Regions from separate parts of the Homo sapiens genome. Here region 2 is linked to region 1. The links come from fine-mapping of genetic effects on gene expression. Tissue or cell type: esophagus mucosa. Region 1 holds a variant in brackets; the other region holds the start of a gene. All regions are shown on one strand. Distances are from middle to middle.

The links. PIP is the estimated chance that this variant, and not a neighbour inherited with it, causes the effect.
Region 2: it holds the start of ARHGAP8, and the variant in region 1 is fine-mapped to the expression of ARHGAP8 in esophagus mucosa (GTEx, PIP 0.93).

The regions. Positions count from the first base shown.
Region 1 is chr22:44,860,599-44,866,710 of GRCh38, reverse strand. It overlaps PRR5-ARHGAP8 (PRR5-ARHGAP8 readthrough), which reads right to left. Exons shown (of 15, transcript NM_181334.6): 15 at 3,927-4,436. The coding sequence ends at 4,116. It overlaps ARHGAP8 (Rho GTPase activating protein 8), which reads right to left. Exons shown (of 12, transcript NM_181335.3): 12 at 3,927-4,436. The coding sequence ends at 4,116. LOC105373062 (a long non-coding RNA gene) reads left to right here and starts at 2,472. Exons shown (of 4, transcript XR_938302.3): 1 at 2,472-2,602; 2 at 3,090-3,260; 3 at 3,500-3,723. LOC124905133 (a long non-coding RNA gene) reads left to right here. Exons shown (of 4, transcript XR_007068129.1): 1 at 1-917; 2 at 1,150-1,295; 3 at 1,536-1,758; 4 at 2,398-2,432. RefSeq lists an enhancer at 2,385-3,138. The variant C/G (reference allele first, on the strand shown) is at 3,319.
Region 2 is chr22:44,750,432-44,754,431 of GRCh38, reverse strand. It overlaps ARHGAP8 (Rho GTPase activating protein 8), which reads right to left and starts at 1,857. Exons shown (of 12, transcript NM_181335.3): 1 at 1,805-1,857. All of the region lies in intron 4 of PRR5-ARHGAP8 (PRR5-ARHGAP8 readthrough), which reads right to left.

The DNA of each region.
Region 1 (6,112 bases):
TGCCCTGATGAGGCAAAAGCAGCCACAGGCAATGTACAAAATGTCCGTGGCTGTGTTCCAAGAAAACTTTATTGGCAAAAACAGGCAGTGGGCCAGATCTAAGCCATGGGCCGTAGTTTGCCAACCCCTGGTCTAGACCACTCCCATTTATAAAGTGATTCGGCTTTAGCAGCTTCCTGGAAGGTGGTGCTGCTGGCTGATAAAGCAGAGGGACGGAGCTTGCAGAATTCAGGTGATAGGGCTTGGATCTCAGTCCCCAGCGCATCTCATGTTGAATTGGAACCCTCAAGGTTGGAGGTGGGGACTGGTGGGAGGTGATTGGATCATGAGAGCAGATACCTCATGGGTTGGTGCTGTCCTCTAGACAGTGAGTGAGTTCTTACCAGATCTGGTTTAAAAGCATGTGGCACCTCTGCCCCACACTCTCTCTTGCTCCTGTTTTTGCCATGTGATGCGCCTCCTTCCTTTTTGCCGTCTGCCATGATTGGAAGCCTCCTGAGGCTTCCCCAGAAGTTGAACAGGTGCTAGTGGCATGCTTGTATAGCTTGCAGAACCATAAGCCAGTTAAACCTCTTTTCTTATAAATGACCGCATCTCAGGTATTTCTTCATAGCAATGCAAGAACGGCCAAACACAAAGTTTGCTGAGCAGAGACACACGGCCAGAAAGTTAAGTGGGGGTCTCAAGCCCGACTGTGGGACAGTCAGTCCATCTTCAGAGCTGTCCTCCCTACGCCCCTGTCCTCCCCCTGGGCCGGGATGCAGCGCTGCCCCTGGCCCCTCTGGAGCTCAGCAGGGAGCCCCATGCCCTTCCAGGTGTGGAGAGCAGCCTGCGCGTCACTCGCTGCCGCCCCATCCTACGGGGCACTGGAGCACAACTGTGTCGTCCTCCGCTACCTCATGGGCTTCCTGCACACGGTGAGTGGGCAAGGGGGGCGCTTGGGGTGAAGCCCAGTGGCCTTCCCTGCCATGCTGGGCCCGCATGGACCAGTCCCCTCCTTGCCCCGGGTCTGGGGTCATGCCCTACTTGGGCCTCGGAATACTACTTCCTGGCCACCAAGGACCTCATCCAAGGCCCGGTCAGGTACCCACGCTGCTGAGGGGACTTTTGTCCTCTGCTCCCCAGAACCTCCCCCATTTCTCCCTGCAGCAAGAGCTGGGGAGACCGCAGCGTGGGACTTGCGGGTAATCTCCCGCAGAGGCCTGTCACTCCTCCCCCACTGCCAGGTCTAGGTGGGCGCAGGACTCAGGCTTAAGCCAGTCGGAGCCTTCCCTGGCTGCAGCAATGGGTCCAAGGTGAGCATGTGACCTAGGCTTGTCCAATCAGGGCGAATCTGGGGCTTTTTTGCTGGGAATGTGGCACTAAGACGTTGTATCCTTCTCCGCCATATTTGATGGGCCCTGTGCTTCTATCTTGCCAGCCCGAGGAGTCAGCCTGCCTGAGACTGCAGAGTCCTGTCGCACCCCAGAGCCCTCGGGCAGCTTGGCTGTTTTATGCCCAATTCTTCACCCTCCCCCTATCCACCTCCTTTGCAGGGCCCTCCCACTGTGACCCTGGCCTCGGCCACCAGGCTTGCTTTGGCCAATGGGATGTGAGCATGCAGGACACCAGTCAAAGCATGAAAACTGCTTGCAGTAGCGCTTGTGTGTGCGCCTGGACCTGTGTTGTAAGAATGTGCCCCTTTTAGCCGTTGGAGGATTTGGGACACCTGCAGGAGAACAGAGTCACCCTGGCTGACAGCCAGCTCAGCCAGGACATGTAAGCCATCCCCTCAAAAGACCAATAGAACCACCCAGCTGACCCACTGACTCATGGGCAGTAATGACCAGCAGTTGCTTTCAGTGACTGGGCTTGGGCATCCCCCTGGCCCCACTGCCCCCCTGCCTGGCTAATTTTCATATTTTGAGTAGACAAGTAAACACAAGGTTTCACCATGTTGGCCAGGCTGGTCTTGAACTCTGGACCTCAAGTGATCCACCTGCCTTGGCCTCCCAAAGTGCTGGGATTACAGGCATGAGCCACTGTGCCCGGCCTACCCTAGGTCGAAGGTCAAACCACCCACTTGATCTCTCAAGTCGCCCGCTTGGTCTTCTTCCAAGGGTACTTTTCTTCCTTTCGTTCCTGCTTTAAAGTTTTTTAATACACTTTCACTCCTGCTCTAAAACTTGCCTCGGTCCTCGGTCTCTCACTCATCCTTATGCCCCTCAGTTGAACTCTCTTTTTTATTTTTTTGAGACGGAGTCTCACTCTGTTGCCCAGACTGGAATGCCCTGGCACGATCTTGGCTCACTGCAACCTCTGCCTCCCGGGTTCAAGCGATTCTCCTGCCTCGGCCTCCCGAGTAGCTGGGACTACAGGTGTGCTCCACCACACTTGGCTAATTTTTTGTATTTTTAGTAGAGACGGGGTTTCACCATGTTGGCCAGGCTGGTCTCGAACTCTTGACCTCAGGTGATGCAACTGCCTTGGCTTCCTAAAGTGCTGGGATTACAGGCGTGAGTCACCGCGCCCGGCCAGTCGAACTCTTTCTTCTGAGGAGGCAAGGATTGAGATTGCTGCAGAACATAGGCATTGGCCGTCAGTAATATACCGTGTGACTCAGGTAGGTTCTGAGCTTGGGCAGAGAAGAGGGGTGTCATTTGGGGACTCCATCCCCAGCTGGGATGGCACGAAGCTTACCAGGGGGTGTAACGGCCATTCTGCAACCCTCCCCATCCCTGTCCCCATGCCCGTGACCCTGTACCATCCATGTTCTGAAGGCAGGGCGTGGGGGGTCGCTCAGCAGCCACACGAGCCCCTCCCTTAAGGACAGCGAGCACCAGCAGGGTAGAACACACACAGCGGCAGATGAGGGGCAGGGGAATAATGGGAAGACACACAAGTGAAGAGGGAGGCCAGCGAGGAGACCGCACCCTCTAAGTTTCAGAGGAGAGCCCTGGGTGTGGGTTTGGCCTGGGGCTGCCAGTGATTCCCCCAAGCATCCTAACGCGTACCGGGGGTCCCGGCACAACTCGGTCAACACCCCAAGCAGGCACGGAGGGGCCACCATGGGGGATCTGTAGAGGGGACTTTTGTCCTTTGCTCCCCAGAACCTCCCCCGCTTCTCCCTGCATCAAGAGCTGGGGAGACGGCAGCGTGGGACTCGTGGGTAATCCCCTGCAGCGGCCTGCCACTCCTCCCCCACTGCCTGGTCTGGGTGGGGCACAAGACTCAGGCCTAAGCCAATCAGAGCCTTCCCTGGCTGCAGCAATGGGTCTAAGGTGAGCATGTGACCTAGGCTTGTCCAATCAGGGTGAACCTGGGGCTTTTTTGCTGGGA[C/G]TGTGGCACTAAGAAGTTGTATCCTTCTCTACCATATCTGATGGAAATACAGGGCCCGTTTTGCCAGCCCAAGAGTCAGCCTGCCTGAGACTGCAGAGTCCTGTCGCACCCCAGAGCCCTCGGGCAGCTTGGCTGCTTTATGCCCAATTCTTCACCCTCCCCATATCCACCCCCTTTGCAGGGCCCTCCCTCTGTGACCCTGGCCTTGGCCACCAGGCTTGCTTTGGCCAATGAGATGTGAGCATACAGGACGCCAGTCAAAGCATGAAAACTGCTTGCAATAGCGCTTGTGTGTGCACCTGGACCTATGTTGTAAGAATGTGCCCCGTTTGGCCATTGGAAGGACTTGGGACACCTGGGGGAGAACAGAGTCACCCCAGCTGCCAGCCAGCTCAGCCAGGACATGTAAGTGACCCCCTCAAAAGACCAATAGAACCACCCAGCTGACCCACTGACTCCTGGGCAGTAACTTTCAGTGACTGGGCTTAGGTGGTGTGTTACACAGCAGTGTGGCAGCAGCAGGACCTGGCAGCCGTTAGCCACTCCATTCCTGTTTTCAGTTAAACCACATTGGGTTGGGATTCAAAACATCCATCCTAACAAATGCATTATTCTATCCCGGTCCACAGCTCAGGAACCATGGACAAGAGTCCAAGGACCAGAGGCATGGAGTTTTCATTAGAAGGTTCTGAATTCATCTAATGGCTGGTTATTTTTACAGATGCCAAGTTTACAAAACATACAAGTGCACAGACAGGTGTGGGAGGTAGCTCGAAATATACAGAGTGTTCGCAACACTAGAGACGTCTTCTGGCTGCCATCAGGGGACTCGGAGGTAGGGTAGGCTTGGTGAGGCCCGTGGCTTGTGTCCGTGGCACAGCCTCCTGCAAAGGGGCTGCCCTGCTCCCCTGTTCCCATGGTGCCAGGCCGTGCTCCCCAGGTGCCTCCGGGGTGCTGAAGATCTTTTCATAGTACTCGATCAGCAGTTCAGTGAACATGTTCAGGGGCACAAGGGCACTCAGGGAGGAGACCCCCTGGGATGGCCAGATCAAATTCAGCCCGAAGACACAGGCCAGGTTAGAGCTGTTCATTTTGTTGAAGATGCTCTCCCGGGACACCTGGAGGAAACCACACACAAGTAAAGGGGAGTGAACACCAAGGGGCACGGGCACCTGGAACTCCCTCCCGAACTTAGGGAGAGGCGTAGGTGTAGTGAGAGGAGCACTGGACTGGGAGCCGGCAGCCAGTAATGGGGACCCTGTGCAGCCACCTGCCCACTCAGGGCCTTAGTTACCCTATCTCTAAAAGGAAGGCTTGGCCTCCATGTCCTGGAGGACCCTCTGGCTCTGACCTTCTGTGACAGCCTCAACCCCCCACTATCTCCTCTTCCACTGCACCTTCTGGGGAGATGCAATCTTGGGGATGGGCTGTAGCACAGACGGTACGAACTTGGTGACCTCTCTGGCCTCGGCTCTGTGAGTGGCGAACTGGGCATGATGGGGACCAGCCAGCACATCTAGGGGCCACTACGAGGGGCAGGGAGAGTGGAAAGAGCTTGCCTGCTAGAAGGGGCTCCTTGTCCATCTCCGCCAACACGTGCAACCCCAGCACGGGGGAGTCATTACTCCCCATCTTACAGATGAGGAATCTGGGGCCTGGAAGGTACAGGAGACTTGCCCAAGGTCATGTGGCCAGCCAGTGGCAGGGGGCCATGTGGACCAACGTGAGGGCAGGGCCTGTTCTCTGCTCCTTGCCTCCCTACAAGATTCAAGCTGGGGGGAACCTCAGTCAGAAACAGGGGTCATGAGGCGGTGAGTACCAGGGCAGAGCAGAGAACTGGAGGGAGGCAGGGCCAGGCACCACCCTCACAGATCTGTTGAGGATGCTCAGGTGAGATGGCTGGATGCCTTTCAGGCTCCCCCTGGCTGCCGGTCCCCCAAGCCCGTTGCAGGTGTGCACCAGCCAGGCCCACTGCAGGCCACCCCTCCTCAAGCCGAGGCCCCCAGGTGCCACTGGGGTGATAACACGCAACACCACACCCCACCAGGTGCATTCACATCGGTGCCCATGGAGGTGGCGGCTAGAGAGAGAAATCAGTCTCTCCTAATGAAAAAGAAGTAGGCTGGGTGCAGTGGCTCACACCTGTAATCCCAGCACTCTTAAGAGGCCGAGGCAGGTGGATCACCTGAGGTCAGGAGTTCAAGATCAGCCTGGCCAATGTGACGAAACCCCATCTCTACTAAAAAAACAAAAATTAGCCGGGCATGGTGGTTCTCACCTGTAATCCCAGCTACGTGGGAGGCTGGGGTTGCAGTGAGCTGAGATTGCACCAGTGCACACCAGCTAGGGCAACAGAGCAAGACTGTCTCAAAAAATTTTTTTGAGAGAATTAGGAGAGTTTAGTTTTGGGCCTCTGAGAAATTATGTCAAGCAACAGGGAGAAAAAAAATTGTTGTAAAACCAAGAAGTGACATTCTCCAACAGACTCTGGGATGTGACGCCTACTCTGCTCAGGCTCTCCTCACCCTGCACAGCCTGGGGCGAAGGCCTGGAGAGATGGAGGGGGTTAAACATTCAAGGCCGTGGGTCTGGGGGTTGGGGGTGGACCCACGTGGATGTGTTGAACCTTCCCCTGTTGGCTGCACAGGTTTTTGCTCCAAATGGATCCCTGCCCCAGGGGGAGAGCACACTAAGCCCAGGCCCAGAGCACTGAAGGGTTTCTCTCTCTCTGGTCATTTGCTTAGCCTGGTGTGTAGTAGATTGAATGGTGGCCCCTCTAAGATAGACCACAGAG
Region 2 (4,000 bases), 110 kb after region 1:
GTGAGCTGAGATCGTGCCATTGCACTCCAGCCTGGGCGACAAGAGCGAAAACTGCGTCACACACACACACACACACACACACACACACACACAAAGTTTCAATGACCCAATGATGTTATCCAAGTAAATTGGCCCACCCCGTCAGGCACTCCATGGACTTTTCCACCCGTACCTCACAAGCGAAGTATCCCTAGCCAGTAGGTGCCATTCTCTTCCCCATCCACCTCCCATCCACCTTCCAGCTCAATGGCCACCTCCTCCAGGAAGCCCTTCCTAAGCTCCCACAAACCCTTGGATTCTCTCTACACAGAAGCCAGACTCTGGGCCCCTGAGGGCAGGGACCAGGCAGCTGGCTGTCCACAAGAATCAGCTGGGCTCAGGCCCACATCCCATGTCCCTCTTCGCCCTACCCCCAACTCTGGCGTTGGTTTGGGGAATGGTTAGTCAGTGAATCGAATGAGGAGTCCACAAACATGATCCTAAAGCTGCCAACAGAGAGGCCAACCAAAGGACATCGACTTCTGAAACGGCTGAGTCTTAAGCATTGAGTTCTCAGCTGGACAAATGCCAACACTGCATTTCACAGGCAAGCGAGGGACGGCACAGAGCTCTCTGGAATCTACACAGCCTCTGTCACAAAACCCTGAAGTCGGTGGCCAAGGTGCTGTCCCCATCCCGCCAAACAATCCCACCCTCCTTCCCGGGTGGACTCTGCGGTTCCTTCTCCGGGGCCTTCACACTCCTCCCAAGGCAGCGGAGAAATTTCCAAGTCAGGGTGTGGCAGAGCCCGAGGGATTCTCAGGAGCCCCCCCACCCCCCACAGGATTGAGGGAAAGTGAAAGGCAGGGCCTCCCTGCCTTCCTGACGACCTCCGAGGCTGCTAGCGGATTGGTTTAAACTTTGGGCTTTTAGGCCGGGCGCGGTGTCTCACGACTGTAATCCCAGCACTTTGGGAGGCCCAGGAAGACGGATCACCTGAGGTCAGGTGGTCGAGACCAGCCTGGACAACATGGTGAAACCCTGTCTGTACTAAAAATACAAAAAATTAGCTGGCATGGTGTCAGTCCCTGTAATCCCAGCTACTCGGGAGGCTGAGGCACAAGAATCGCTTGAACCCAGGAGGCGGAGGTTGCAGTGAGCAGAGATGCAACACTGCAATCCAGCCTGGGGACAGAGCAAGACTCGGTGTCAAAAAAAAAAAAAAAAGTTTCTGCTTTTAACTCCCGGGGGGTTCCACCGCTGTGTGTTGAACCGGCCAGCCCCCCACCCCCTGAGTTTGAATCAGCGCAGCACCTGCCCCGGCCTCCGTTTTCTCATCTATGAAACGGGAATGACCTCACCCACCTTGTAGGTTTGGGGTGTGTGGGGGCGGGGGAGGTGCCTCCCCCAGGCGCTGACCCGACCTAACCTGAGACCCCAGGACGGAAGCAAAAAAGGAACATTTGAGCTGACACCGTCCGGCCAGACCAGACCAAAACGCAGGCTGAGAGAGGCGAGGGCGGGGAAGGCGGTGCGGGGTGAGAAGGAACAGGACAGGGGAAAAAGCAGAGGAGGGGAGTGTGGGGGGGCGGGAAAGAAAGGAGGTGAAGGGAGAGGGAGTCTAGAACCCACAGGGGACCCGGAGGCTGCGCGCCGGCCGGAGGGTCTCCCCCCGGCCGCACGTGGCGTCGCGCCCGCCTGGGCGTCCCTACCCGGCCAGCGGCCCCTTGTCCCCGTACACGCCCTGGGAGCCCCCGCGGCGCACCCCCCCACCCCGAGCACGGCCTCCTCCCTGCGCGCTCCCTCCCGCCGCCGCCCGCCTTACCTGGCCACGGACCCCGCCGGCCCCCACCTGCGTGCCGGGTCTGCCGCTCACCTGGCCCCTCCCCGGACGTGGCTCCCGGGCAGGCCCCGCCCCCCCGCCCCTCCGCCCAGCCCCGCCCCTCCGCCCCTGCTACCCGGCGGGAGCCATTTCCCAGGTGCACGAGCTGACCCTGGGTCCACCTGTGTGTCGGGGGGACAGGGCGGGGTCGGGCGGAGCACACGCGCTCAGGAGCCCCTCGCACATCGCACCCTGGGCACCCCGATTCCCGGCTGGGCCGCGTCCCCGTCCCGCACGGCACCCATGCCTGGGGCGGGCACTTTCTTGCTGATCCATTTCCCCATTTCTTATTTTATTTATTCATTATTTTACTTTATGTATGTATGTATTTATTTATTTATTTTGAGACGGAGTCTCGCGCTGTCGCCCAGGCTGGAGTGCAGTGGCGCGATCTCGGCTTACTGCAGCTTCAACCTCCCGAGTTCAAGCGATCCTCCCACCTCAGCCTTCATAGTAGATGGGATTACAGACGTGCGCCGCCAAGCCCGGCTAAGTTTTGTATTTTTAGTGGAGACCGGGTTTCACCATGTTGGCCAGGCTGGTCTCGAACTCCCAACCTCAAACGATCCTCCCGCCTCCACCTCCCAAAGTGTTGAAATTACAGGCGTGAGCCACTGCGCCGGGCCCCATTTTTAATTTTACTTTTTTGAGACAGGGGTCTCGCTCTGTTCAGGCTGGAGTGCAGTGTCTTGAACTTGGTTCACTGCAGCCTCTACCTCCTGGATTCAGGCGATCCTCCGGCCTCAGCTTCCCGAGTAGCTGGGACCGCAGGTGTGCACCACCATACCCAGCTAATTTTTGTAGTTTTTGTAGAGACAGGAGTCTTGCCATGTTGTCCAGGCTGGTCTGGAACTCCTGGGCTCAAGTGATCCACCCTCCTCAGCCTCTCAAAGTGTTGGGATTACGTGCCTGAGCTACTGCACCTGGCCCCTTTCGTTAGGGGTGTACAAAGCGTGGCAGAACTGGGAGAATTGGAGGGACTTGAGAGGAAATTTTCCCTAGGGTTTGTTGAAGGATTTGTATCTGAGGAAAGCAGCTTAGATACAACAAAATATATCAGGCCCAGAGAAACAGTAGTATAGGACTTCAGTCCAGGTCCCCCTGCAGTGCTTGGGGGGCCATAGTTTTTTGTTTGTTTGTTTGTTTTTTGTTTTTGTTTTTAGAGTCTTGCTTTGTTACCCAGGCTGAGAGTGCAATGGCGCGATCTCAGCTCACTGCAACCTCCACCTCCTGGGTTCAGGCAATTCTCCTGCCTCAGCCTCCCAAGTAGCTGGGATTACAGGGGCCTGCCACCATGTCCAGCTAATTTTTTGTATTTTTGGTAGAGACGGGGTTTCACCATGTTTGCCAGGCTAGTCTTGAACTCCTGACCTCAAGTGATCCACTCACCTCGGCCTCCCAAAGTGCTGGGATTACAGGCATGAGCTACCGCACCCGGCCGTGGGGGCCATGGTTTAAAGGCATTTTGTTCCTGACTCACTGCCTCACCCATTATCTGCATGTTCCTGCAACTTGTGATACAGAGAAAAATGTGTAGCCAATCAACAACTTATTATTTTTATTTTTATTTTAGATTCAAGGGGTACATGTGCAGGTTTGTTAGGGGATATATTGGGTGACACTGAGGTTTGGTTTTCTGTTGATCTCCTTACCCAGGTAGTGAGCACAGTACCCAATAGGAAGTTTTTCAGCCCTTGCCCTACTCCCCCCACCCTTCTGGAGTCCCCAATGTCTTTTGTTCCCATCTTTATATCTGTGGGTACCCAAGGTTTAGCTCCCCCTTAGAAGTGAGACATGTCATATTTGGTTTTCTGTTTCTGCATGAATTCACTTAGGATAATGGCTTCCAGCTGCATCTATGTTGCTGCAAAGGACAAGATTTCATTCTTTTTCATGACTGCATAGTATTCCATGTTGGAAATGTACCACATTTTCTTTATCCAATCCACTATTGATGGGCACCTCAGTTGACCCCATATCTAACCTATAGTGAATAGTGCTGCTATGCACATATGAGTGCAGATGGCTTTTTGGTAGAAAGATTTCTTTTCTTTTGGGTGTGTACCCACTAACGGGATTGCTGGGTTGAAGGGTAGTTCTATTTTAAGTTCTTTGAGAAATCTCCAAGCTGCTTTCCAC